Linked DNA regions of Homo sapiens. The protein of the gene in region 3 interacts with the protein of the main gene of each other region in a biochemical or structural test. Each region holds a gene or a part of one and is shown on either strand. Other genes may lie near its edges.

What was found.
Region 1: the proteins of L1CAM (region 3) and NCAN form a complex in vitro, tested with the Homo sapiens proteins (one study listed by BioGRID).
Region 2: the proteins of L1CAM (region 3) and ITGAV form a complex in vitro, tested with the Homo sapiens proteins (one study listed by BioGRID).
Region 4: the proteins of L1CAM (region 3) and NRP1 form a complex in vitro, tested with the Homo sapiens proteins (one study listed by BioGRID).

The regions. Positions count from the first base shown.
Region 1 is NC_000019.10:19,207,669-19,214,961, reverse strand, and holds the start of NCAN (neurocan core protein precursor), read right to left. Parts: upstream 3,005-7,293; 5' UTR 2,898-3,004; intron 1-2,897. UniProt on the Homo sapiens protein: May modulate neuronal adhesion and neurite growth during development by binding to neural cell adhesion molecules (NG-CAM and N-CAM). Chondroitin sulfate proteoglycan; binds to hyaluronic acid.
Region 2 is NC_000002.12:186,663,043-186,670,067, reverse strand, and holds part of ITGAV (integrin alpha-V isoform 1 preproprotein), read right to left. Parts: intron 6,301-7,025; coding exon 6,233-6,300; intron 5,575-6,232; coding exon 5,427-5,574; intron 4,943-5,426; coding exon 4,850-4,942; intron 3,365-4,849; coding exon 3,285-3,364; intron 2,919-3,284; coding exon 2,838-2,918; intron 2,398-2,837; coding exon 2,292-2,397; intron 1,307-2,291; coding exon 1,148-1,306; intron 368-1,147; coding exon 254-367; intron 1-253.
Region 3 is NC_000023.11:153,883,156-153,890,059, reverse strand, and holds the start of L1CAM (neural cell adhesion molecule L1 isoform 1 precursor), read left to right. Parts: upstream 1-3,886; 5' UTR 3,887-3,995; intron 3,996-4,082; exon of another isoform or gene 4,083-4,252; intron 4,253-4,623; exon of another isoform or gene 4,624-4,697; intron 4,698-5,786; exon of another isoform or gene 5,787-6,112; intron 6,113-6,163; exon of another isoform or gene 6,164-6,349; intron 6,350-6,904. UniProt on the Homo sapiens protein: Neural cell adhesion molecule involved in the dynamics of cell adhesion and in the generation of transmembrane signals at tyrosine kinase receptors.
Region 4 is NC_000010.11:33,212,667-33,219,691, forward strand, and holds part of NRP1 (neuropilin-1 isoform a precursor), read right to left. Parts: intron 1,156-7,025; exon of another isoform or gene 1,052-1,155; coding exon 720-1,051; exon of another isoform or gene 572-719; intron 1-571. UniProt on the Homo sapiens protein: Cell-surface receptor involved in the development of the cardiovascular system, in angiogenesis, in the formation of certain neuronal circuits and in organogenesis outside the nervous system. Mediates the chemorepulsant activity of semaphorins.

The DNA.
Region 1 (7,293 bases), on a different chromosome or scaffold from region 3:
GTAAACCTCAGCAACCTCTGCCTTCACCAGGCTGTTCTCATTTCTTCCCCTTGGAACCCTGAGCAAGTGTGGGGTCCCCTCATGGCTGTTCCAGGCCTGGCCAGGTATTAGAGAGAGACAGGACTCCGGGTTGCACCTGCCCCCAGCAGGGCCTTACGAGAGGACAAGGCCAGAGAATTCTCTTTCTCTCTCTCTCTCACACACACACACACACACACACACACACACACACACCCCGTTAACAGGTCAGACTACATCCAGATAGCTCTGCTTCTAATCCGGGACAAGCTGCTTCAATCTCTCTGTGCCTCAGTTTCCCCACCTGTAAAATGGAGATTATCCAGCAAGTACCACCTGCAGCTACTGTGAGGATGAAATGACCTAAGACTTGCAAAGTCCTAGAAATGTTAAATTTAAAAACAGCTCTTTAGACACAAAGCCTCATGTATACGCTAAAAATATACTGAGGTTGCCCAACATGGTGACAGACACAGTTTCAGGTGCACACCCCCCACACACACCCTCCCACTCCCTTCCACTCGCACCCTCACACACCCACACCCTTCTCTTAAAATACCTCCTCCCCAGGGCGGCCAGAGATGAGCATTTACACAGCTGTCTGGGGCCCGTGCCCTCATGAATAATGTACAAGCCTCATGCATATGCAAGCAGGGGCCTGCGGGGTGCTGGAGGAGGGGCAGCTCGGATCCATGTGAATGTGTGTGTGTGAGAGAGTGTGTGTGAGTGTGTGTGTGTAAGTGTGTGTGTGTCCCCTCCTTCACTTCACCCCCACCTCAAGTCTCCGTTAGCACTGAGTGAAGGTGAGTTTGCCAATGGGCATTTGTGAGTGTTTGTGACTGGGTGTGTGTCCGGGGTGTTGTGTCCTGGCAAGGGTGTGAAGGCGGTTGTGCCATGTGGTGGGTGCATGTTGTGTGTGTGAGCCTGCAGCAGCTCCGTGCACCGGGTGGAGCACATGGGACCTAGTGTGATCTGTGGATGTGTGTGAGTCTGAGTGACCCTCAGCAGGGGGCTGTGCGCACATGTGTGTGTTTCTGACCTGAGAGTCAGGGTGTATTAGTGTGCATGGGTGTGAATGTGGAACTCCGTGGAGGAGAAAGGGAGATGGGCTCAGTCATCATCCCGGGCTTCCCCTTGGGGATTTCAACCCCTGCTCAAGCTTTCCCTGTTAGCGCCCCAACTCTGAACACAGACCACGTCCCACACCCCCGTGCCAAGGGTGCACACTGCCAACCGCATGGAAAGAACCCTTGGCCCCTCCAGATACACAAGCGGGACACACACAGCCACGCACCCCAGACACAGACCCTGGGGAAACACACACTCACACAGATTCACAGTGACATTAACAAAGAGAGACAATATGGGCACTTACAAGACAGGCGGCGTGTCTTCTGCACAAAGACACACACCCACAGTCTCGGGCCCCCCCCCCCCCACATAAACCCCTTGATGAACGGAACAGCATCAGACATAGCTCCTCACTCACACGGCGATGCCAGCCCCTGGCACAAACCGAGATGGATAATTGTGGCCTTGGTGACCGATGGACACCCATCATTTTGCCACATGGTGATGTGGCCCTCGGCACAAGTTTTCTGACAAAGACACAACCACAGTCACATCAGACTCACAGGGGACCCTAGAACCCCTGGGCATACTCCCCCTCCCTGCCTGTCTGGGGTGGACACACACACAAAACCCCCATATCCTTGAGGGGGAACTTGATTTCAGAATGTCCATCAGCTATTGCGACGGCTGGGTTCTGGGGTCCCACAGTGCACCCACCCCTTCCTGCCTGCCCTGCCCCCACGTCCCCCGCTGGGGCCCAGAGCCAACCCTCTCCCTGGCCTGGCTGTTTCTCATTGATGCTGCCTGAGAGGAACAAAGCCCCACGCGTAGGGATGGGGGTCTCTCCTGCCCAGACAGGGCCCTTACTTCCCAGCCCCTTACTTCCCAGCCCCTGTGCCCCCAAACCAAGCCAGCGCTTCCACATGTGTCCATATGGACAGGTGGAACTAAAGGGGGTGGGGGTAGGGGTCTGTGTCATGCTGTAAGGACGTGGGAGGCTGTGAAGGTGCTGGGGGACAGCCCCCCCTCTGAGCTGGTATCCCTCACAGGTCCTGGGGATCCATAGCTGGGGGGTCTAGGGGACCCCCACCCAACATTCACCTGGGACACCCAGTGTGTTCCCTGGGATAAGGGACAACACCTCAACCCAAGGTCTAAGGGAATAACGGGGAACCACGTTGGGATGGGGACCCCCAGGACCTCCTCCCTGAGTCAGAACGTGGTGACCGGACCTGACCCAAAAGGACAGGGAGATGGCAGGGAGCCCCTTCCCCATGGCCGTTCGCTCTCAGCGCAGATACCCTTCCATTGGGCACAGGGTGATCTGGGGGCCCCCTCCCCACTGCAGTCCGGCCCGGAATCCTCCATTCAACCGCAAATTGGGAATCCCTACTTAAAATCCTGGGGTGTCTCGGCTGAGATACGGGGGTGCCCTGTTCCAGAGTCCCCCATTCGGCATCTGGGTGTCCTCTTCTTCCCTCCAAACTCGGGGGGCCCCTCCCCTAGCCCTGTTTCCCATTGCTCCCTCCTCAACCCTGAGACCCACCCCCAGCCCGGCCCCCTCCCCACCGGGGGGTAGTCTCCGGATTCCGCGGACAACCTTCCTCCCCAAATGTCTGTTCACCTAGCATTCCCAAGCCCCCTCCCAGTTCGCGCTCCCTCCTCAACCTAGGGCTCCCCTCCCCCGCTTCAGCCCCCTCCCCATTCTGGGGACTTCTCCCTGGTCTCAGGTCCTCTCCCTAATCCTGAGCTCTGTCTCTAATCCCGAAGTCTTCTCCCGCAACACGGCCCCCTCACGGATCCCCCACCTGGCTCCTAGCTCGGACGCATCCCGGGGCGGCCGCCGGGCACAAAGGACGCTGCGCTCCGACTCAGCCAGCTCCGCGCCGGGTCCAGCCCCTGCGCCCTGCGCTCCGCTGGCCCCAGCGCCGCCTCAGTGCTTATAAAGGGGCCGCGAGGGCTCTCTGCGCATGCGCCCCCGCCAGCCCGAGGCCTCTGGCTGCGCGAGGGAGGGGGCTCCCCTGCCTAAAATCCCCACCCCGCCCATTTTTTGGACACTCACCGCACCCAGGAGAAGATGGCATCGATTCTCCTCCCATTCTCTTTGCCCCAGGAACCGCGTTAAACGTCCCCATTATGCCCCAGGATGAGGCCGTCCCATTTTACAGGTGGGGAAACTGAGCCCCAAGGAGGCAAAGTCGCTTCCCAAGGTCACGCACAGAGGCAGAGCTGGGATTCGAACCTCGCCCTGCCTGATTCTCCAGGACTCACGTTCAAAGCAGTTTTGGCTACAATTACTGGTTTACCCCATTTACAGAGAGGAAACTGAGGCACGGACGAGACGGGGAGACTCCTTGTTCACACAGCTGGTAAGAGGCACGCAGGGTGGGAGTCCAGGTGTGTGACACCCCCGAGCTGTTTCCAGCAACTACAGCCAGATTGTATCATTCATTCATTCACCTTTGTCTGATCAGCATTTATGTAGCACACTCTATGGACTGGGTACTGCTGTTGACACATGAATAATTTTGCTTTATGCAGAGGCATAGGCATGTCCCTGCCATGAGACATGAGACCCCAATCTTTTTTTTTTTTTTTCAGACGGAGTCTTGCTCCGTCATCCAGGCTGGAGTACAGTGGCACGATGTTGGCTCACTGCAACCTCCACCTCCCAGGTTCAAGCGATTCTCCTGCCTCAGCCTCCTGAATAGCTGGGATTACAGGCACCTGCCACCACACCCAGTTAATTTTTGTATTTTTAGTAGAGATGTGGTTTCACCATGTCAGCTAGGCTGGTCTCGATCTCCTGGCCTCAAATGATCCGCCCGCCTCAGCATCCCAAAATGCTGGGATTACAGGCATGAGCCACCGCGCATGGCCTTGAATTACACATTTTAAGATGGTGAGTTTTATGTTATCTGTATTTGACCACCATTAAAAATATGGTAATGAGGGCTGGGTTCGGTGGCTCACACCTGTAATCCCAGCACTTTGGGAGGCCAAGGCGGGTGGATCACCTGAGGTCAGGAGTTTAAGACCAGCCTGGCCAACATGGTGAAACCCTTTCCCTATTAAAAATACAAAAATTAGCCAGGCGTGTTGGCAGACACCTGTAATCCCAGCTGCTCAGGAGGCTGAGGCAGGAGAATCGCTTGAACCCAGGAGGCAGAGGTTGCAGTGAGCTGAGACCATGCCATTGCACTCCAGCCTGAGTGACAGAGTGAGACTCCGTCTCAAAAAAAAAAAAAAAAAAAAAAAAGCCATGAGGAGGGAAATGTGCCCAGAGAGGGCAGGCTTTGCCCCTGCCTTCCTTCCTATGGTCGTGGTGTTTCTGTGCTGAGAATGGGCTCGCAGCGCTCCACCCTGGGTCCTATATCTGTGAGTGTGTGTTTAGCATCTCTGAGGGTGCGTGTCCATCTGGTAGGAGGATAGGCAAATGAGGGACAAGATAGCTTCCACAAGGTTATCAAAGAAAGGAGGCCTTGGCCAGGTGCCGTGGCTCACGCCCATAATCCCAGCGCTTTGGGAGGCCAAGAGGACAGATCATTTGAGGTCAGGAGTTCGAGACCAGCCTAGCCAACATGGTGAAACCCCATCTCTAATAAATCAAAATTAGGGTGTGGTGGCGGACGCCTGTAATCCCAGCTACTCGGGAGGCTGAGGCAGGAGAATCGCTTGAACCCTGGAGGCGCAAGTTGCAGTGAGCCGAAATTGGGCCACTGCATTCCAGCCTGGGCAACAGAGTGAGACTCCATCAAAAAAAGAAAAAAGAAGAAGAAAGGAGGCCAAGCACCGTGGCTCATGCCTGTAATCCCAACACTTTGGGAGGCTGAAGCAGGCAGATCACCTAAGGTCAGGAGTTTGAGACCAGCCCAGCCCAGCCAACATGGTGAAACCCTGTCTGTACTAAAAATACAAAAATTAGCCAGGCATGGTGGTGTTCACCTATAATCCCAGATACTCAGGAGGCTGAGGCAGGAGAATCACTTGAACCTGGGAGGCGGAGCGTGCAGTGAACCGAGACTGTGCCACTGCACTCCAGCCTGGGTGTCAGAGCAAGATTCCATCTCAAAAAAAAAAAAAAAGATTATCAAAGAAAGGGTAGGAATGAATGAGGGATAAGGGGGGACCCCAGGTGAGCAAGGGGTAGCCCTGGGGTCCAAGATGATACAGCGGGAAGCTGCACTGACTGTTTGACTCTGTGTCACAGAGGAGAGATGGAGGTCAAGGATCCCAGCTGATGTGAGTGTCTGCAGGTGACAGCTGTGTCAGCAGCACCCAAACAGCATGCAATGACTAGTCGGTGAGGCTGGAGCGTGCTGGGGGGTTGGCTGTGGCTCACACTGGGAAAGACGCTGAGAACAGCTGCGTGACGTGCGTGAGAACCGAGTAGCTCAGCCTCCACAAGTCTGGGGTTCAAACCCCCTCCCTGCCATTCGTAACAATGTGACTCTGAGTGAGCCATCTCATCTTTCTGTGTCTCAGTTTCCCCATCTGAAATGGGGATAGTCCAGGTGCCGGTGGCTCATGCCTGTAATCCCAGCACTTTGGGAGTCAGAGGCAGGAGGATCACTTGAGCCCAGGAGTTCAAGACCAGCCTGAGCAACACAGTGAGACCCCCATCTCTACAAAAAATAACTTAAAAGTTAGCAGGACATGGTGGCACACATCTGTGGTCCCGGCTACTCGGGAGGCTGAGGGGGAAGGATCGCTGGAGCCCAGGAGATTAAAGCTGCAGTGAGTCAAGATTGCATCACTGTACTCTGGTCTGGGTGACACAGTGAGACCCTATTTCAAAAATGAATAAAATAAAATGGGGGGAGGGTGGGCGCGGTGGCTCAAGGCTGTAATCTCAGCACTTTGGGAGGCCAAGGCAGATGGATCATGAGGTCAGAATTTGAGACCAGCCTGGCCAACATGGTGAAATCCCGTCTCTACTAAAATTCAAAATTAGCTGGGTGGGGTGGTGCACACCTGTAATCCCAGCTACTCAGGAGGCTGAGGTAGGACAATCGCTTGAACCCAGGAGGTGGAGGTTGCAGTGAGCCAAGATGGCACCACTGCATTCCAGCCTGGGTGACTGAGTGAGATTCCATCTTGGGAAAAAATTAAATAAATAAATAAATAAAATGGGGGATAATGAATGTCCCTACGTTACCGGTTGCTTGGAGAATGAAATGGGAAGTAAACACACAGGCAGGGACTGCTGTTTATTTTACAGGTGCTGGGGAAACTGAGGCTTAAGGAGCTAGGATCACCTGCCCGAGGATGTACAGAGTGAGTAGAGACCAGGTGGAAGCCAAGGTCTGTGGGCGCAGAGCTGAGCCCCAACCCCACCTATCCTCATCCTTCTGCTTCCCCCGCTTCTCCACTCCTCCCCACCCCTTGCCCCCACCCCCCGGCTCCTCGCTGGTGCCAGGGCTGAGCTTAGAGGGGCTGGCCTGGGGCCCAGGGGCGGGCTGTTGCCGGGGGCTTGAATGAGGCAACCTTGCCTGGGAATCTACTGGGCTCAAAGAGCTATTTATAGGCCTGAGCTGGGATTGGGCACCCCTCCCCAGCCCTGAGTGCCTTCTCTGTCCCCACCACCCCACTGGGGCCCTGGGCCAGGGGCTGCTGCCAGTGGGGGAGGGGTGGGGGATGGTACTGGCAGACCAGAGCAGAGGTGGGGAGGGAGGCTGGACCCTCCAAGAGAGCTGGGTCTCAGGGGTGGACAGTGCCTCCAAAGTGCCTCTGAACATGCCCAAGGTGACACATGGGTAAGTCACACACAATGCCACCAACAACCACTGACACACACAGTCACACCCCAGCCACACCCCAGCCACACTAACAGCACAGGTGGCTCACATGCAACCTCACCTGGCCACACACAGGTCTCACCCACCACACATGACCAAACCTGACCATACACAATGACACCCAGCCATACACAATCATACCTGGTCATGTACAACCACACCCAGCCATACACACCACACCCAGCCATACACAACCACACCCAGCCATGCACAACCACACCCAGCCATACACGCCACACCCAGCCATGCACAACTACACCCAGCCATGCACAACCACACCCAGCCAATGACAACCACATCCAGCCATACACAACCACACCCAGCCATATAAAACCACACTCAGCCATACACAACCACACCCAGCCATATACAACCACACTCAGCCATACACAACCACACCCAGTCA
Region 2 (7,025 bases), on a different chromosome or scaffold from region 3:
TAAAGAACTAGAGTAGGAGAATCAAAGTTGGGACATAAACTAGTTTTATTAGCCATCTACAAAAATAGCTCATTTGAAGAAAATATGGCATTAATCTGACTAGGAAAAAGGAAAGTGAGAGGAATGCATGGTATAAAAATAAATGTAGTTGTTCAAGCACAGCTGTTGTTATTTTTGAAATGTTCTTTGGCGTCAGTTCTATAGTCACATATTTTTAAATGTCTATGGTGCACATATTTGAAATGGCACTTACCAAAGTGTGAATATCTCCTTCACTGAGGGCAAGATCCCGCTTAGTGATGAGATGGTCCCGCTCACCTTGCCCGGCAACCGTGTCATTCTTTTCAGTTGTTTGCAAAGATGAGATCTAATGCAATCACATTAATAAAATGGTGGTAAATGATAATGAAAAACATTTTACATCAGCATTTTGATATAAACTCTTAGATATGATTAAAAAATAGTGAATGAAAATTTAGTATGACAGAATATTTACCACTCAGTATATAGTGAGCAGTAAGGACAGAAAATAAAGATTAGAGTCTTTAATATGTACCAAAAAAGTTAGCTCTCCCTAACCATTATTTTCAGCCCTTGCTTAGCTAGAGTGGAAACTGATGAAACATACAGAAATGGCCTGAAATTCCACAGTACATTTGTGATGTCAATCATGGGTATATCTTTTATTTTGTTTCTTCACCTTTCCTTAGATCATATTGTGTAATAGTTTCTAGTGCAAATCTATGATGGAGATGACTATATCCAAAAGTCAAGATAATCATGAGTAAAATGGTATAGCTTATCCCAAAGGTAGAAATTTTAACAACAAAACACCCTTGATGTGATATTATGCCCTGAAGAAACAACAACGTGATGGAGCCAAGGTCAAACTGAGTCACTGAAGGACACATCTCATGAGGCTCAGTAAGCACTCTATGAAGATGTGGTTCACTAGACATCACAGAATCAATTCTTACCCATTATACAAATGAACTTATCCTAAGTGTACTGCTTATGAACTAAACCATTTTTTGCAGAGTGGGTTTTATATTAAAATAGTTGTTTTATTTTATGAATTTCTTTTACAGGTTTAGAAAGAAGGCAATGAAATATCATTGTAATGAAGAGCTGCTATTAAGCATATTACCTTAATTCTCAAAGGGTTGATCTCCATATCTGAAGTGCAGTTCATTGGTCCATCAATATCATAATGAAGGATATACAACAGAGTGTTATTATTATATTTGTAAGGCCACTGAAGATGGAGCATTGCCTTGCTGAATGAACTTGGACCATTGTTTCTCAGCTAAGGAGAAAAAAGAAAATGTATCTACACCTTGGGCAAAAATCTGTTCCATAATCCTTCCCCTACATCAACTTTAGAAATCATGTTAGCAATAGGTTTTAAATAACAGCAATTTCCACAGTTAACCTCTAATTACAATGTGACCATTTTTATGCAAAAATGATCAAACTCAACATTTGTCTCTAACACAGAGTAATATGTGTCAGGATAAAAATATAAACAAGGTTGGGCACAGTGGCTCATGCCTGTAATCCCAGCACTTTGGGAGGCCGAGGCGGGCGGATCTCTTGAGGTCAGGAGTTCATGTCCAGCCTGGCCAACGTGGTGAAACCTGTCGGTGAAACCCTGTCCCTACTAAAAATACAAAAATTAGCCGGGCATGGTGGTGCACACGTGTAATCCCAGCTACTCAGCAAGCTGAGGCAGGAGAATCGCTTGAACCCGGGAGGTGGAGTTTGCAGTGAGCTGAGATCGCGCCACTGCACTCCAGCCTGGGCGACAGAGCAAGACTTCACCTCAAAAAAAAAAAAAAAAAAAAAAAAAAATATATATATATATATATATATATATATATATGTATGTATGTATAAACAAAAGGCAAAATATTTAAAAGTTATTAATGAAGGATGACAAAGAAAATTTCTTCCTATAGAAATAGTTTTGATTATTTGCCATAGGTATTTTCAATTTTTAGCCAGAACTACAAAATGCCCATGAGAAAGTACCAATGACATTTCTTTATTCAAGTAGAACTAATTTATTTTAAACAACAAATTATATAAACTGCTTTATTTAAACAAGTCTATTTGTCAAATAAAAATGAATTTATGTATAGGGAAAATATTCAAAGAAATCTCTGACACATACTTAACCAATGTAGAGTTTACATAAAAATTACATAGAATTTTTTTTTTAAAGTAGCTTAGTTGTTCCTCTCTTCGTTGGCTTGCTCACGAGGTTTGAGTAAAATCTAACAACTGCAAACCTCATAGATGTGCTGAACAACTGGCCCAACATCTTCTTCAGTCTCAGGGTTCTCCTTGTGCTCCCAGTTTGGAATCGGAAGAAAGACATGATCAGGACTCGAGACTCTAAACAATGACCAAAGAAAACCTACCATGAATATCAAAATGATATAGTCAGTTCATTTTCAAAAGTACCCCATATTCATTACTCAAATAAATAAAATTAGATTTAATTTTAAAAAATACTTTAAAAGAAAACTAATGAACACACACATGCACAAAAACTGCTCTTATGAAATGTACACGTAACAGGTGAATTGACAATTTGTGTAAAAGTTCAACAAAATTATTTTGTGCATGTTGTTGCCATGTCTTGTTCCTTTTGAGGATCACCCAGTATTGGGGGTTTGGAACATACCTAGGATTTTATTTCTACAGAAGCTAATGCCCTAGTAAAACCACCACTAAACATGCAGGGTCTATTGTCCAGAAAAGGCTAAGGCCTGACAGTTACCTTTAAAAAGCAATCATGAGAATGAGATACTCAACTAAGTATTCATACTGACCCTCTTATCTCAACTGCAGCTAAAACAGCAAGATCAACTTTGTGAGATACAACTGGGCTTACTTTGTCAAATAGATTTGAGCTGAAAAAGAAAAAAAAAAACTTAAAAATGAATTATGCATAACAACCAAGAACATACAGAGGCAAACCCAGTGAAACTAAAAATTAACAAACGAAACAAGTGTAAAGCTTATACCTCAAAATAGTTATTTTCATTAACACTTAATTCCAAGAAGATGAACATTTTCTTTCTGGATTTTAAATTTTGTTTTACAAACTCAAATCTGACAATAAAATTATTCTTATAATGTAAATATTGATTTTAAAATGCTATAGTCAAGCAATAAAATTTAATCTGCTACTTTATATTTAAAGTATATTACATAGTATATTTACAACAAATAATATTTATTTGATAGTTATAAGTGAATATAAGTTGTTTTCATACCTTTGGATTTGTAAGTCAAATTTCACAGAAGTATCCATCTCTGACTGCTGGTGCACACTGAAACGAAGACCAGCTAAGAGCTAAAGGAGAGAGGAAAAGATAGTAATGCTAGTCAATGTCTAATTAGCAAAATTTCAAATCCAATGTCTAAATAAAAAATAATGTTCTAAAATGGGGTTTTTCTGAGCTTACAATAAAACTGAACAAAGATAACTAAATCTTATTTTCTATCAAACCTATTTTACTTAATATACCTGGACCAATCCATAAGAGAGCCTATTTAACAACAATTATTAATCATAATTATACCTCCTTATAATACTAACCATCTTTCTAAAAAGTGCAAAAGTAAATGTTTGTTGATCCAGTGAAAGTCTAGCAACTGGGTACAATAATTTGATAACACGAAGCTAACCACCAAAGTATGTGCTGTGTTCATAGGCCAGGAAAGAAGAAATGGATGGTTTACTAGAGTAAGGGAACATGGCTAAAGAAGGCATGAGTAGGGCCACAACCAGAATTTCTCCACACACCTCTCATAACACTCCCAACACCAAATATCCTAATTCCTGCAGGCAGAAAATTGGTAGATTTTAAATAAAACAATTGAACCACCAGGTACAAAAAAGAAGGCTTCTTGGGGATCACACAAATGACATATAAAAACAGTACTTCCTGGGTTCTGCCTCCCACTCCACAAAACCTGGAGCTGGCTACTTGTAATAAGCAGAAACTATATAATAACCAGAAAGTTAGAGAGAATGAGAATATGAGAAAATAAAAGGCATGCTCATTGTTAATAAAACATTGAATACACGTGAAAAACTGAACTTAGGGTAATTTGTTCAAGTTCTCATCCCTAAGATACCATACATCTAGAAATACTAATGACTTGTAATAGAAAACATACTAAAGAAATATGGAATATTTAGACCTGTATTACCACAGATCTTCAAAGTACCAGTATCAATAAGTCATTAAATAAATTCTATTGAAAAAGTCACACAGCATATGCTGCCATTTTGTCCTTGCTACTAGAAATTCTACAAGGTATATTTTGTTTACTTTTTAGAGGATTCGGAAAGCAAGCCATTGGCTGCTTCTTTTCAAGCTCCTGGGCACCCTGCTCCACCATCTGAAGGGGAGCCTGATTTAACTGACCTTCACTTTGATCCTCTGTGTGGGGCCTGTGATGGAATCTAGCTCACCTAGGATTGACAGTCTTGGTAGTTGCCAGAGTAGCTTTTCAGGATCCATTAAGGCATCAGTGTAAAATAGCAAAAATTATTATTTCAGTCCTTAGTTTAAACCACGTTCTCATCCATTCACTAAAGTGAAGGAGGCATAAAGAGCAGCTGATTGCAAACCGTGTAGGAGCACAACCAATTGTTTTCGTATCTTAGTTAAAACTAAGCAAAACTCTGCTAATCATTTAACTATTATATCGAAACCAATTTAAGGACATTGTTTTGAAGTGTTTATTTTTAAAAATTACTATGAGCCCAGACAACAATATGCTTTTCTATTTGCCAGGGAGAAAAATCCGTTTAATTAAATTGTCTTACTTGAGTTCCAGCCTTCATTGGGTTTCCAAGGTCACATACCACCTGGCGAGTTTGGTTTTCTGTCTTAAATGCACAGGAAAGTCTTGCTAAGGCCTTTGATAGACCAAAAAAAAAAAAAAAAATGGATATGAAAGGAAATAAAGTATCACGCAGTTGGATATTTCAGTTTCTTGTCCTAAGCAAATAAATCTAGTTGAGCAAACCAGGAGGTAAGGAAAAAGCCAGAATTGGGTACAATTGCCACATGGAAATGCAGAAGTGTTTCTGAAAGATCCCTAGAGGACTACCATACAAAACCATACAGCCTCTGACAAATAATTTGATGGACAGGCTTAGACACTTTATCTATCTAACCTTGTTTCCAGGCACTTAGCTTGCAATTCTAAAAATGTCATATCAATGCATTATGCAAAGTATTAGGCTTAAAAGGAATTATGTAAGATAGGCACTCCATTGTCTATCAATTTAGCCTTAGGTAGAATAGCTAAGCTTGTGCTTCACTAAATAGGGGAACAGCTCATTAATGTTAATAAGATCCGTGAGTGCATTTCAATTTTTAAAGAGGCAGCCTGCTTACTTCATTGTTTCGGACAACCCCGATGAAATCAGCCTGCAGTGGAATGGAAACGATGAGCTCAGCTTCGTAGGCACCTTCTCCTTGATTCTGAGCCTTAACAATCAATGTCAGAGGGTTGTCATCCCCAATATAGATCTTCTTTTGATCACTACAAGTTAACAATACAAATCCAGACTGAGAAAAAAAGACTACATGGGGAAAGTATGACTGTTCAAAGAAAGAAGAGATAAATACACAGCACTGACATGTTCAACAGTGTCTCAAGGTATTTTAAGACTACTTCACAGCTTGATAGAAAACAGAAAATAGCACACTGGGTGCAAATCGAATGCTTCTCTCAATAAAAATAAACATTGATGCCACTAATATATCACTATCATTCATATCTATTACTGAAGTGAATTACATGTACTTTGTAATTCCCCAATATTTTTCTAAAAGCTAAATTAATCACGTGTCATAATTCTCACAATATTCTTTATAATTCATATGCCTTACAAAATGGTAAGGATATTCCTTGAGTTCAAAGAATGTTTATGATGAAGTGTATCTTTAAAATGATACAATATTATTTTGTGATATTACCCAAAGTTGAATGGTAATAACTCTTTCAACCTAGGCAACTAGTGAAAACACAGTGGATATTTTCTTTAGAAGCTCAATATTGATAGTTTTAGTGTTATAGAAAATCAGGCATTACCCTCCAGGATAACTAATTCTCGTTAAAATATGTTAGTCCTTTGAATAGAAAAATGTGCCCTTCCATTTAAATTTCTTACTACATTATTATTTCAAGCAAAACTTACCTATCTACAGAAACTTCCAGCTTGGGTTTACAGACATTGTCTTCACCACAGTCAAGTAGAATGTGAGCCTAGAAAAAAACATTTTATTTTTCTACATGAAAAATACCAATGCAGGTGGCATAAGCAGTGTTTATCAATATCTATGTGGTTAAGCCTATATGTACACATGTATATATTTTCAGATACTCATCAGCTTGTTTGTTGTATACCTGAATGCAAAAGAGACCATGGCCACTTATTTTTAAGCAGGTCAGTGTAGCCAGTCAAGAAAGAGAAAGAAGAAAAAGATTCATAGGATATGATACAGTTCCTTGGAACCTTTCAGTTTTATCTCAGATTAAGCTGTTATCATATTTGAATGAAGACTGGTGTAGAAAAGAAAGTAATAGCCAAGAAATGAGGCTTCATTTTTACCCTGCTGCTAGTTAAGTTGTGAGATGTTGGGCAAAATAGACTCCCTTCTAGAGTTTCTCATTATGGACTGTGCCTCTACCAATATCAGGAAATAGGGCTGCAGAGGATAAAAGAATAAGGAGCTGTAGATATTCAGCAGCAATTCAGACAGGCAGAGAGACCAAGGGGCAAAAGAAACTGGATAAAATGAGTCCAGCATTGCATGGTCATTTGGAAAAAGATGAAGGAAAAGGAACTTGAAGCATTATAGTTAACCAATCAGGGTAGGTGAAAAAAACAAAGACCTGAACTTTTTCCCCACTAGATCTGGCCAGGAGAATGTTCCAGCTAGAGCAAAATGGAAACACCCAAAAGAGAGAAACAGTGGGAAAAAAGCAGA
Region 3 (6,904 bases):
CATTCTTGAAGTCAGCGAGACCAAGAACCCACTGGAAGGAACCAACTCCAGACACACCTTCACTGATACAATGTGGGGGTGAGGCCAGGTGCAGTGACTCACTCCTGTAATCCTAGCACTTTGTGAGGCCAAGGCAGTGGATCACCACTTGAGCCCAGGAGTTCAAGACCAGTCTGGACAACATAGTGAGACCTCACCTCTACCAAAAAAGAAAAAAAAATTAATCAAGTGTGGTGGTGGCACATCTGTTGTCCCAGTACTTGGGAGGCTGTGGTGGGAGGATCACTTGAGCCCAGGAGGTCGAGGTTGCAGTGAGCCATGATCACACCACTGCACTCCAGCCTAGGGAACAGAGTGAGACCCTGTCTCAAAGTAATAACAACACTAATAAAAAATAATAAAGTGGAGGTGGGGGAGAGAGATGGGGAAAGCAGGACAAATAGAAAGCAAATACTCACCTGGCGTGACTACATCCAGAGATAGCAGCAGTCATCACCGTGTGACCAGCTGACCTGCACAGTTCAAAGACAAAGGCAGGTTCAACATCAATCTACCACTTGACTGAACAATCCACTCCTAAGCGGTTACCTTAGAGAAATGAAGACACACATTTACACAAGCTTGCATATAAATGTTTAGAGCTGCTCCATCATAATCACACAAAGCTGGAAACTACCCAAGTGTCCTTCAGTGAGTGAATGGCTGAACAAACCCTGATCCAACCAAACAATGGAATACTACTCGGCAATCAAAAGGAAATATACTGCTCTCTCTCGCCCGCATGCTCTCTCTCTCTCTCTCTCACACACACACACAAACACACACACCAACATGGATGAAGCTCAAAAAGTATGCTGCGTGAGTGTGAAAGAAGCCAGACAAAAGAATATATACGGTATGATTCCATTTATAATAAAATTTAGAAAAGACAGAAATCAGATCAGTGGTGGCCAAGGGCAGGGGGTGGTGGGAGTGGTTGGCTGCACACAACATTCACCAAAACTCCTTGAACTGTAAACCTCAAAAGGATGAATTTTACTGTATGTAAATTATACTCCAATAAAGTTGATTTTTTTTTTTTTTTTTTTGAGACAGGGTCTCACTCTGTCACCCAGGCTGGAGTGTAGTGGTGTGATCATGGCTCACTGTAGCCTCAACCTCTTGGGCTCCAGCGATCCTCCCACCTCAGCCTCCTGAGTAGTTGGGACTACAGACATGCACCACCATGCCTAATTTTAAAATTTTTTTTGTAGAGACGTGGTCTCGCTGTGTTGCCCAGGCAGGTCTCAAAGCTGATTTTTAAAAAGACAAGAATTGTTAGACAGAATCAAACCAAACCAAAACCCAACTATGTGCTGTTTCCAAGCGCTACACCTGAGATATGAAGACACAGAAAGATTGAAAGGAGAACAGAGAAAGACACGTCTGGCTGAGCCCACCCCGCCTGCCTGCTGGCACTTCCTTACTGCCCCACTGTCGTCTGTGGCTTCTGCGTCTTCTGCATGCTCATCACAGGGTCAGAGTCTGGGGCTTCCCTTGTCCAGTCCACTGTGTCTATGAGGGCTGGGTCACAGGGAGCAGGGCTGTGAGAAGCACTTGACGTTGAAGGGAAAGAGACAGTCATCTGTCTACTTGGTGTCCCCCTAACCTCCAACAGCAAGCACATGGCAGTGGGGGGGTGGCTTGCCTCTTGTTCAGGGCCAGTCCCTCCTGCTTCTCCTGGGACTTGCTCTGCCCTTGGTCTTCTGTCACTCTTGCTCTTGCTCCCATTGGCTCCTCCACTTCATTACATGGAAGTGAGAATGGGCATCGTGGTCAAGCAGAAGGGAATTCAAGTCCGAGTTCTGCCATTTACCTTCTGGGCTATCTTGGGTGGGTCATTTGACCCCTCTGAACCTTGGTTTCCTCATCTGTGAAATGGGGGCACTGATAGTGCCAATTTCTTCCTGGTTGCATGACTGCCCCTCTCTGGACCTTGGGTACCTCACTGGGAGAGTGAGGATAATAACAGCACCATCATCTGGGGTGTGTGTGTGGATGCAATGAGCCAGTGGAGAGAAAGAGACCTTCCTAACTGTGCTTGCTGGACCCAGCCTTGAGCTCTGTGGGCTTTGGTTTTCTCATCTGTAACGTGGGGCGAATGCTTCAACAGACCTCCCCAGGTTGGTGTGCAATTTAAATGTGCAGGAAATGTAACGATGGCAGGTCCATGGCTGTGCTCAGGAAATGTGATGTCGTGTAATCCTAGTAATGAATTTTTTGTTACCATAAATGGACCCATCACTACACATTAGCAGGTGCGTATAAACGGGCTCTATTCCCTGCTTACTTCACCATCCTGATGGGCATCAAACCCTAGATTAGGTAAAGGATTTGCAGAAGTTGGGGCTTGGAGGAAAGGCTGGGAACGTAGGGAGTGAGTGGAGGCAGCAACTGGAAAGGAGAGAGGCCTATCAGAGTTCAGATCAGCAAAGGCAGGAAGCTGACCACAGCTCAGTGCCTCATGGAAAGTACGCCCTCTTGGCCCAGCTCATGAGCCTGCTGGCCTCGTGACCCAGGCGGGCTCAGTTTCCTCTGCTGTCACCTGAAGATGCCCTGCAAGTGCCCCCACTCTGGAAGCAGTCTCCCTAGCCGTCCGTCTTCACTCAGGTGCCTAGTCTTGTCCATTCTCCTCCTAAAGGCTGGGCAAACATGGCATCCAGACCCTCTCTGAGCACAGATGGGTCCACCCCAAGCTTCCCATTCCAGGGGAACTGAAGCTGGCACTATGGGGGTGGGGCATCCAAGCCAGGATGCCAGGGCTGCTCCCATGTGGGCCCTCCAGGGCCCCACACCACTTGGGGAGTCTTGTGAGACTGAGTCGAGGGCCCCTGGAATGCTTCACTGGGCAACAGGCATGCCCATAAAAATACCGTGGCCGCCAGATCTGCAATCTGCCATCGGGGCCCTAGGCCTTCCTAGCCCTGAGGCTGCAGCCAGCTCGCCGGCTCCGGAATTCTTACCCCCTCCATTTTGCTTCCTCGCCTGTGAGGTCATGGCCTTGAGCCTAGGAGGGGGCACTGGGGAGGAGCTCCTTCCTTCTCGATCCTGTGCAGGGCTGCGGGGGAGAGTGGGAGAGAGTGGAGTCGGCGGGAAAGGTCGAATGGGGCCAATCCCGAGGACAAAGAAATAAGACACCAGAGAGCTGGAGGAAAATCTGGGAGTTGGGGGTGGCAGTTCGAGGGATACCCTCTCCCAGACCCTGTCTCCCCTGGGCTCGCCTCCTACCCTGCCGCCCACCTGGGCTCTGGGGTGCGCAGGAGCCGGTGCTCCGCGGCGCCTCCCCAACACGCTGAGGACGAAGCCCCCGCACCCCTCCCAACAGGACCCTGACTGGGCCCTCAGGATCGGGGGGCATTCGGGAGAGGTCCCGGGAGTCCTGCCCTGTGTGTGTGTGTTGGGGGGGCGTTGCGTGCAGGTGCCCATCGCTGGCCGGCGCCGTCGAGGGCCAGGCCGAGGCTAAGGGAGCATCCCCTTCCTTGCCGGACTCCTCTCTCCACCGCCCGGCCCCAGGCCTCTGGGAGCACTCTCGCCCCGCGATTCCCGCTCCGAGCTTTCACAGCGGGCTCCCTTGCGCTGGGGCTGAGGACACTCTCCGGCCGGAGACTCCCGGTCTGCGGGGAAGGGGGTCTGGCGGGACCCGTCGGCTGGGGTCCCGCTGAGCTCCCGGAGTGGGCTGCCCGGGGGCCCCCAGCCCAAGCCGCGCTCGGCTGGCACCAGGGGCTAGGGTGCGGCGGGGCGGGGCGGGGCGGGGCGGGCGGCCGGGGAGGTGATCTCACTCCTCCCTCCCTCTCCTCCCCGGCGCTCCCCTCCCCCGCCCCTGCGCGCACGCCCGCCCCGCCCCGCCACAGCCGCTGCTGCCGCAGCATCGGCATCGCAGACGCGCTCGGGCGGCGGGTCCGAGGCCGGCGTGCGCGGAGGCTGGGCGGGCAGCCCGAGCGGTGGCCGCAGCGCAGGTAAGGCGGGCTGGCCTCCCCGTGCGACCCGGGCCGCGGCCGCGATCCCCCGGCGACACCACACCGCTCTGCCCGGGGTGCACGGACCAGGGAGTCCCGGCCCGGTCCGGCCCGCGGTAACCGGCGTTGCTGCCGGAGCCCCACCCATGCCGGGCGTCGGGCTCCGGGCACCGCGGGCTGTAAGCGGGGCGGGGGAGGGATGCCGGGTGCCCGAGCCCGACAGGTGAGGGGTAACCTGCGGGGCCCCAGATGCTGGCCTGGGCGGGAGAACAGGGCGGGGGGCGTCAGGCAGGGTCTGTGTGGGCAGGCGGGGGCTGAAGTTGGCGGGTCCCCGTGCGTGTGTGCGTGTCTGAGAAAGGAAGCCAGATCGGGTCGAGCGCTCCCCCACAGGCCGCCGTGGGGTGTGGCCCTGGGCGTGGCTGCCCCTCATCCCCAGCCGAGAGCTCAGTTTGGTTGAAAATCCCGGCTGACAGCGTGGTGAGGGGTAGATCGGGATAAGCCGCCCCTGCAATGGGGGGAGGGGAGTGAACGGGACTGGGCGCTGCCTGCCCCTCCGCCCCAAGGTTGGGGGGGCTTTGTTCTCCTCCTTCTTCTTTCCAAATCCCAGCCTGGGCTCCTCCGGGCTCACCCGAAAACCTGCCGCAGAGCCAGGGGCTCCTCCCCGGAGGCGTAGGGCGCCTCTGGAGCCCGTTTCCACAGGCTCTGTGGCCAGTCAGGGCTGGAGTGGGTGAGGTCGGTTCGGGCACCCACTGCTGTGCCTCCCGTGCATGGGTGTCCATCAGGTAGGGTCCATCAGGTAGGGGTGAGGGAAGGTGGGCCTCACTGGCTCAGGCGGTCCCTGCGCACTGCAGGTCTTTTGCCCACTGCCACATCTTCCTATCTCTGTGCGGTTATGGGAGGGGTCAGCGATTCCTATTCCCTCCATTCCAGGTCAGACTTTTGGGGCCTCTTGGTTGGCAGGGATTGCAAAGAACACGCACTACAATCCATTGCCCCCGACAGGGTATCTGGACCCCCCACCTATCACTGTCCCTCTCAGGAAGGCAGGCCTAGAGCCATCTGCCCCCTTCTCCAGAAGGAGTGGGGGCCTGGCACCCCCCAGGTAGATACCCTGCCCCTGTTAACCCCACCCTGAGGGCAGGGGCATCGGGGCAGCCCAGTGCCATCTCTGCTGACTCATGTGGCCCTGACGTAAATCAGTGCAGTCCGCCCTTCTTCCCCTGGGGGCTGCTGCCCAGCATCATCTTTCTGGGGCGGGGGCCTCCCCAGGGCCTCTCCCCTCCCGTCAGCTCCTTGCTGCAGGTGGTGGGACTTGGCCCAGCCTGGCCTCTCCCCTGGCACAGCTCCCATGCAGTGCCCACATGTGCACACCTGAGGGCTCCAGAGCCTTTGAGGACTCGGCTGTCTTGGCCACATGGGAAGTTTGGGGCAGGGTTGGGCCTGGGACCTTCCCACCTCCTTGGCTCCTGGTCATTTCTCTCTGCTGCATCTGAGTCTCTCTCCATATTTATTGATGTTTGTGTGTGTATGATCCCGAAAGTAATACATCTTATTGTAGGACACTTGAAATATACAGAAAAGAACAAAAGAAATTAAGAATCGCTAGTGATCTGATCACCAAGAGGGAAACACGTTCAGCACGCCCCAGCCTCCCTGGTTTGCTACACCGCGCTCCTAAAAGGCTCCTCCCCAAGTTCCCAGCTGCCAGCTCCCTGCTGAGCATCAGGAGGACAATCAGCGCTTCAAGGTGGCGGGGTCCCCTGCCCTGCAGCCAGTGAAGAGCTTCCCTACCCAGGCGCTCAGGATCCCAGCGATGGGCAGTCGTGTACTGGGCAGCTGCTCATGGCCAGTGCTCCTTTGGGCCGGGCTCTGGGCTGCCCATGGAAGAGCCAGTGACAAACTGGACCAGCATTGTCCCTGTCTTCGTGGGGTGTCACTTGTTTTCTTTTTTCTTGATGATTATCTGAAGGGAAAAGGGAGGCAAAGAGTGAGGAAGGGCCTGGCCTGAGGGCTCCTACAGTGAGCAGGGTGCCCAGATTGTGCCCCCAATCGGCCTCTCCCAGGTCCGAGCCCTTTCCACCACTGGAACTACAGCTGGCGCCTTCCTTGGCATGCACCTGGCCAGGACTGGCAGGTGAGGGTCGAGGAGACAGGCCTGTGTGCCCTACCTTGATCACCAAGTTCCCTTTCAAAGCTCGAAATGGCTGCACTGAGTGCTTTTCTGGGTGTGAGGGTGATGCGGCCTCGCAGAGTGGCCCAGGCTCCAGGAGGGCACGTTCATGGGAGAACCTGGGGTAGTGGTGGGGTCCTGTGAGGAGGTCTGCCAGGATGGGGATCCCAGCCAAGACCCTGGTCTGCCAGGCATGAGTGGGGGCATGAGTGGGGGCCCTGCCTCCCTCCCTCGTGGTTCAGACAGTGGGGGAGGCGGGGGGTCTGGATGCCCTTCTAGGGTCCCCAGCAGGGTGCTCATTGCCCTGTCCTCTGCCCCTGCAATGGGCTGGGGCTGGGTCCCTGGGTGGGGCCATCTGGAATGGGCCTGCAGCATCCCTGCCCCTGCAGTCGCTGTCTTACTTGCTCTGATCTGGCCCATCTCGGACACCTCCTTCTCCTGCTTCCCCCGCCCCCCTGCTCTCTCCTCTGCAGCCTCCCACGTCTCCCTGTGCCCCACCCCCAGGGCCATCACCTTCCTCCTCCTTCTAGGCAGAAGCCTGCTGCTGCCGGGGATGGGGTGCACCACTCCCCGTCTCCTCCCTCTGCCTCTGCCTGCCTGGCCCTCCCTTCCCTCTTCCCCCTTCCCGTCAGGGCTCTGCTCCATCTCTCTGCTTACCCTTTTGTCTGTCTTCCACCGCTCTGCTCCTCTCCTTGTCCCCCCCAGCTGCCCCTGCCTCACCCTTGAGGGCCCTGAGGTT
Region 4 (7,025 bases), on a different chromosome or scaffold from region 3:
TCACAATTAATTTTTTTTTTTTGAGACGGAATCTCACTCTGTCACCCAGGCTAGAGAGCAGTGGTGCAATCTCAGCTCACTGCAACCTCTGCCTCCCGGGTTTAAGCAATTCTCCTGCTTCAGCCTCCAGAATAGCTAGGACTACAGGCACACGCTGCCACACCCTGTTAATTTTTTGTATTTTAGTAGAGATGGGGTTTCACCGTGCTGTCCAGTCTGGTCTCGAACTCCTGAGCTCAGACAATCCGCCCGACTCGGCATCCCAAAGTGCTGGGATTACAGGCATGAGCCACTGAGCCTGGCCCACAATAAAAATTTATAAAAGAAACAAAGCACTTAAACTAGGGGTAGGTTTGAGATGGGGGGAGGGCAGACCCAAACGACTGAGTGGTATCTGCAAGGGGTTCTGAGCGCTGGCTGGATGGCTGCTGTCAGCCTTGGGCTTCCCCGTCTCCTGTCTGCATGTTGAGCTGTCTGTCCATCCCTACAGCCAGGGAATGGGACCAGCAATGCAATTCTTTTGCATGTTATCTCAGACATCACTTTTCATGCCATATTCCTGTCTTCCTAGAATCAAGGGTCTTACTGACCCCATCACACACCTCCTCTAATGTCATGGCTGGAAGGAAATAAGAAGCCCTTCCTCGGGAGAATGCCAGAGGCCCTTGATTGAAGTCAAGGACATAAGGGATGACCTCCTCCCAGTCCCCAGCCCTCACCTTCGCCTTGCGTTTGCTGTCATCCATGATCATCTTCCAGTCCGAGCCGTTGTTGCTGTACCCGATCTTGAACTTCCTCATGAACACCTTGTTCTCTCGGTGCTTCCCACCCTGAATGATGATGCCCCTCACGATCTTCTCCTCCCCCAGGTCTATTTGGAGCCACTCATTGATGTAGGAATGAGGTGCGGGTGGAAGTGCCCAGCCAGAGCGACTGGTTACCAGGCGGATGTTTTCAGGCATCCAGTTTCTGTCCCCTTGGTTGGATGATGTGATCTGGGAGTCAGAAATAAGTCCAGACACCATACCCAACATTCCAGAGCAAGGATAATCTGGGAAGTGAAATGAAACAGATAATGTAAAATGATTTCCTGGGCGACTCCATGCTAAGAAATAAAATACAACATATGGAATAAAGACATGATTTTGTACCCAATCATATACAATTTTCAGTCTCTGGATTATTTTACAGTAAATCTTTCCTCCCTCAAACCTTCCTCCTGCTCTGTCAGAATTCCCGTCTCTAAACTCACATCCCAGTAAGGCAAATCTTCAATAAGAACATACATTTCCCCCGCTTTGACATCTTCTAAGTTTAACATTCATATTTCAGTCTCTTTGGTATCCAGAATTCATCCCTGGATCAAGTACTGGCCCTGCTTAAGAGAAGTTCATAGTTTATGATGGATTGGAGATATGCATAGAAGTCAATCCGATAGCAGGAAGGTTGCTAAAACAAAGGTAAAGAGACAGTGATGCAGAGGTAAAGAGAACGAATGCATACTCAGCCTGCAGAGGTAATAGAGGACCTCCCAGGGGAGGTGGCATTTGAATTGAGTGTGGGAGAATAGTGACCATGATCCCCCACAACTGTTCTCCCCACCCCTATTTCTAATTGCATTGGGGACTTTCCACATGAATGTCTCACTGTCATCTCAAATGTACCACAAGCAGACTAAGACAGTCCTTTCCCCTGGATACTGCATCTTTTCACTGAACCCTGTCTTTTAATTGGTGGCATCACCAATCATCCACTTCCTGCCTAGTCATCTCGTCATTTCCGTTTTGCTGCCAAATCCTGTTGTTTTTATTAAGTACAAGAAAGCAACAGAACTCTTGTTGCTACCTTCCTTTCTTCTGGATTTATCCTGATCCGAGCGCTCTGGCCAGGGTGCTACATCAGCTCTTGGTTGGCCTCCCAGACCCCACTTTGAATCTCCACTACACCAACTGCTACTTAAATTTTCAGAAAATGTTGTTTTAAGCATGTCATTCTCATCCTCAAAAATCTCCACTGCTAAGTGAAAGAAGCCCAACAAAAAAAGGACAAATATGGTCTGATTCCATGGATAGGAGTAGCCTATCACTAGATCAGTCAGATTCGTAGAGACAGAAAGCAAAATGGTGGTTGCCAGGGCTTGGGGGAAATGGAGATTGGGAGAGTTAGTGTTTCATGGGTGCAGAGTTTCAGTCTGAGACAATTATAAAATTCTGGAAATAGTGGTGATGCTTGCACAGCAATGTGACTGTACTTAATGCGACAGAATTGTACACTTAAAAATGTACAATGATAAAATTAAAATGGTTAAAAGTGGTTGAAAATTGTTAAAGCGGTAAATTTTATGTTATGTATATTTTACCCCGACAATAGAAAAGAGATATCTTTTGAAAATGTACCATGGTTTTCCATTATTGATAGGAAGATATCAAAACTCGATCTGGCATTCAAGACCCTCATTTTGACTTCATCCCATTTGCCTAATTTGATTTTCTATTACTGACAATACATCTCAGTTAAGCAATTCTCTTCTCATACAGTCTAGACGTCATCCTCATCATTGCCTTTGCTCAAAACCCAGCTTAAGACTCATGAAGAGAACTTTTCAAGCTACTCTAGCTTTTATTCTGAGCTCTCCCTTCTCAGAAATATGATGTAAGTAGCACAGAGCTCAGCATTCCACTGCTCTCTAAGGCTTTAAGATTGTTAGTCATGTACCCACAGCTAGATTATAAGATCTTCAAAGGCAATGAACAGCATCATAGACCTTTTTATGTCTTCTAAAGCAGCCCAAGGAGCTTCTGAGCACAAGGAGAGTATCAGTTGTTGATGAATTCAACGCTGGCTTAATGACAAAATGTCCAACACTTCAAGTATTTTCCTTTAGAAACTGTACATCCTAATCAAGAACATGTGCAAGAATGATAACCTATTTTTCTTTGAAGCAACTCAATTCTGCGTTATATAATAAAAATTTAGCCTAAAAATATAACTACCCCTAAGTGAGAGGCAAACATCTAATGCAATTAAACTAAGTCCACATTATCAGCTGAACCTTAAGAATTCATTACTCAGATACTTTCCACATGAGTTCTATGGTCCAGATCATGTCGTTTCTTTACTCAGACATTCAGTGCCTTCTTGTCTAGAAATTACGCACGTCATTTTCAGTCAGGCATGCAGGCCTTCCATGTCATGTCCTTGCAAGGCCTCTCCCCATTCACTCCTTTAACCAGTGCCAATTGGCATGAAGAACTTCCTTACTTCTGGGAGTTTGGGAGCTTTCTTTCTGTTCCCTCCACAAGGAATTCCCTGTCATGTTACCCTTTTCCATTATCTGAACTGCTTAAAATCCTGACCTGTTTTCAAATGCCACATCGTTTACTCAGTTTTTCTGTTCTCTGCAACTGGACACAGTTTTCCATTTCTGGGCCTCTTCACACCATTTTATCTGCATTTCCCTTCTTTCTTTCTTTCTTTTTTTTTTTTTTTGAGAAGGAGTCTCGCTCTGTCTCCCAGGCTGGAGTGCAGTGGGGCGATCTTGGCTCACTGCAAGCTCCACCTCCCGGGTTCACGCCATTCTCCTGCCTCAGCCTCCCGAGTAGCTAGGACTCCAGGCGCCTGCCACCACGCCCGGCTTATTTTTTGTATTTTTAGTAGAGAGGGGTTTCACAGTGTTAGCCAGGATGGTCTCGATCTCCTGACCTCGTGATGCCTGCCTCGGCCTCCCAAAGTGCTGGGATTACAGGTGTGAGCCACGGCGCCTGGCCCCTCTACACCCCGGCCTTTTTTTTAATTTTTATTTTTAGAGACAGGGTCTCACTCTGTCACCCAGGCTGGAGTGGAGTGGTGTGATCATGGCTCACTGCAGCCTTGAACTCTTGGCCTCAAGCAATCCTCCCACCTCAGTCTCCTGAGTAGCTAGGACTACATGTGGATGCTACCATGATTGGCAATTTTTTTTTTTTTGGTCTCGCTATGTTGCCCAGGCTGCTCTCAAACTACTGGGGTCAAGAGATCTTACCATTTTGGCCTCCCAAAGTGCTGGGGTCACAGGCTTGAGCCACCATATCCAGCCCTCAAATGCTGATGAGCACATTTAGTTCTTTGGAATGCTGCTTTCTGCCTCCCCAGATTTTAACTTCTTTGAGGACACGAACTAAGTCATATTTTTCTGTTTTATATGACTCTTCATGCCCTGTTTTATACATAGTATTTGCTCAACAAATATTTGTTGAATGAATCAACTTAATACAATGAAAGGCAGCTGTCATTTTCTCAATTGCCCTTTCCTGTAACTTAACCACAGTATTTGCTCCAGGCTGGGATCTGGAAACCAAGAATATACTCAGTCGGGATTAAAAAAAGATTTACAAAAACAATTTTACTAAGGGACTATGAAACTGTAGTGTTAAAAATAGAGTGCCATTTTTTGGCCACGGTGTTCATACCTGCCTGATTCCAAACAAGCTTTTAGAAAGGCAATGTTTAGCTGGTAATGGGGACCAGATGTTACCATTTGGAGGCAAACATAATTAACTTGAATACTGTAAGGAGAGCAGAACCGTCACCAGATTAATGCCCTTTCTCTAATGCAGACTCGGCTGGGGCACAGTTTCTGTATTCATAGACTTAGTGATGCCCTGTCCCCATTTAGCCAACATATCCATGGTGCAAAGTGAGACTGTTATTCCTTCCATATAGCTGCCTCATTAAAAAAAAAAAAATGAAGAGGCAACTTGATTTACCTTTGACTGAAAACTATGTGACTCACTTTTAACAATAATTTGCAGAAAAATTACATTAACAATTAATTCAAGGTTTGAATGAGATGCTAGCGTTTAACTCTGTCCCTTCATAGCAGGCTGGTACAGGTCAGCCCGGTGCAGGTCAAACCCTTTGGAAATAGTGTTGCCAGATTTAGCAAATAAACAACAAAACAAGAAACAAGATGCCCAGTGAAATTAGAATTCAGAGAAATAATGAATAATTTTTTAGTACACATATGTCTCAAATATTGCATGGGACATACTTATTCTGAAAAATTATGTCTTGTTTGTCTGCGTCAAATTTAACTGGACATTTTGTATTTCACTTGGCAGCCTTGTTTGGAAAGCTTAAGACCACTTCAGGATGGAAGGGAGAAATGAGTTTTGTAATGGAGGATTGAGGTCGTTATTTTCAGTGATATTATTTTACAGTAAATCTCTGTACTCAGCTTTAATGGAAAAACTGAGGTATACTGGTAAATCAAATATCCAGTTAACCAATTTCCAACGAATGAGAAAGTAATAACTGCATTCGATGGGAGACCCTGAATGAGCATAATTTAATCTCTCCTTGATGACTCAGAAAGTACCTCTGGATATTATGGTGTCTGAGATCATCACTGTGAATTCTGATTGACTTAGGAGCACATGAATATGTGTTGAAGCGCTGGGTAACAGACTTCTGGTTAATAACAGAAGATAGCAGAGTTCAGAGTGTGTTAAGCAGCCATTGCCCAACGTGATTTCCATCTCTGCCAAAATGATGAAGCCTACTTTGTCAAAATAATGAAAATGCCCTTCATCAATCACCTATAAAGCAGAATGGTTTGTTCCAATCTTATTTTCTTTATATCTCTATATGGTGACAAACTCTGAATTTTCCAGGATTACTATATTTCTTTTTTCTTTCTTTTTTTTTTTTTTGAGATGGAATCTTGCTCTGTTGCCCAGGCTGGAGTGCAGTGGCCAGTGGCACAATCTCGGCTCACTGCAAGCTCTGCCTCCTGGGTTCACGCCATTCTCCTGCCTCAGCCTTCTGAGTAGCTGGGACTACAAGTGCATGCCACCACACCTGGGTAATTTTTTGTATTTTTAGTAGAGATGGGGTTTCACTGTGTTAGCCAGGATGGTCTCAATCTCCTGACCTCGTGATCCACCTGCCTCGGCCTCCCAAAGTGCTGGGATTACAGGAGTGAGCCACTGCGCCCAGTCCAGGATTACTATATTTCTAAAAAATAATTTCTGAATCAAAAAATTAGGGTAAAACTTGGGGCTTTAGTGGCTTTGGAAGCCAAGTGATGTGTTCAAGCAGTAACCTTTCATTAGGTAGGCTTAAACAAAATCCAGATTGAATTGTGACTACTCAGCAGGGTGAAAATTTGAGGTCCAGCCGCTTGTTTCTCAGAAGGCGTGCATAAAACTGCACTTCCTTCATTCAAAAGTAACCACCAAGCATTTGTTATGTTCCAGGCATACAGGACACAACAGAAAATGAGGCAAACAGGTCCCCTGCTCTCCTGGACCATCTAGTCCAGCAGGAATACTGTAGTCCTCCTTTCATTAATCTCTACTCAAGGGGACCTTTGATTTTCATTTCAAGAAAATGAAAATTATCTGCTTCTGATAATCAAGAAGAAAAACTTGAAATTACTGTCTTATTAGAGGCTCTGCTTGCTGGGGCATATGCTAGGTTCAATATATTGAGTGCCATGTACTATTTTAGTCTAACGGGTACCATTTAGTGAGCACTTAGTTTAAGCCAGGGGTGTTCCAAATTTCCTCTCATTGACTCCTCATTATAGTTGCATTAAGGTGATCCTCACAGACCAGAAAACGGAGATCAGAGTGAGTCTCAATGTCTTATCCATGGTCCGTCATGCATACACTAAGTGGACAGTCCACAGTCAAGCCTGGATATGTCTGCCTGCCTTCTGTCCATGTGACTATCGTAACGTGTTAGCCTCTCCAAAAACCTGCTTCTGGCAATTATTTGGAGACTAGAGACATTTTACTAGAGAGAAAATATTTAAAAGTATAGTGGAGACCATGATTAAGAGACTAGCACTAGGAACTGAAAGGAAGCACCTTATTTGAAAAATAGCTACTTAATTATGTATGAAAATATTAGGATATGCTATTTTAGACATCTAAGTTTACATAACTAGATCATTTAACTATTTTTAAAAATTGAACAAATTATTTACCTTCTTTGCTCACATTCCTAGCATCACCTCTCAGGGAAATCCTTGTGAAAATTAA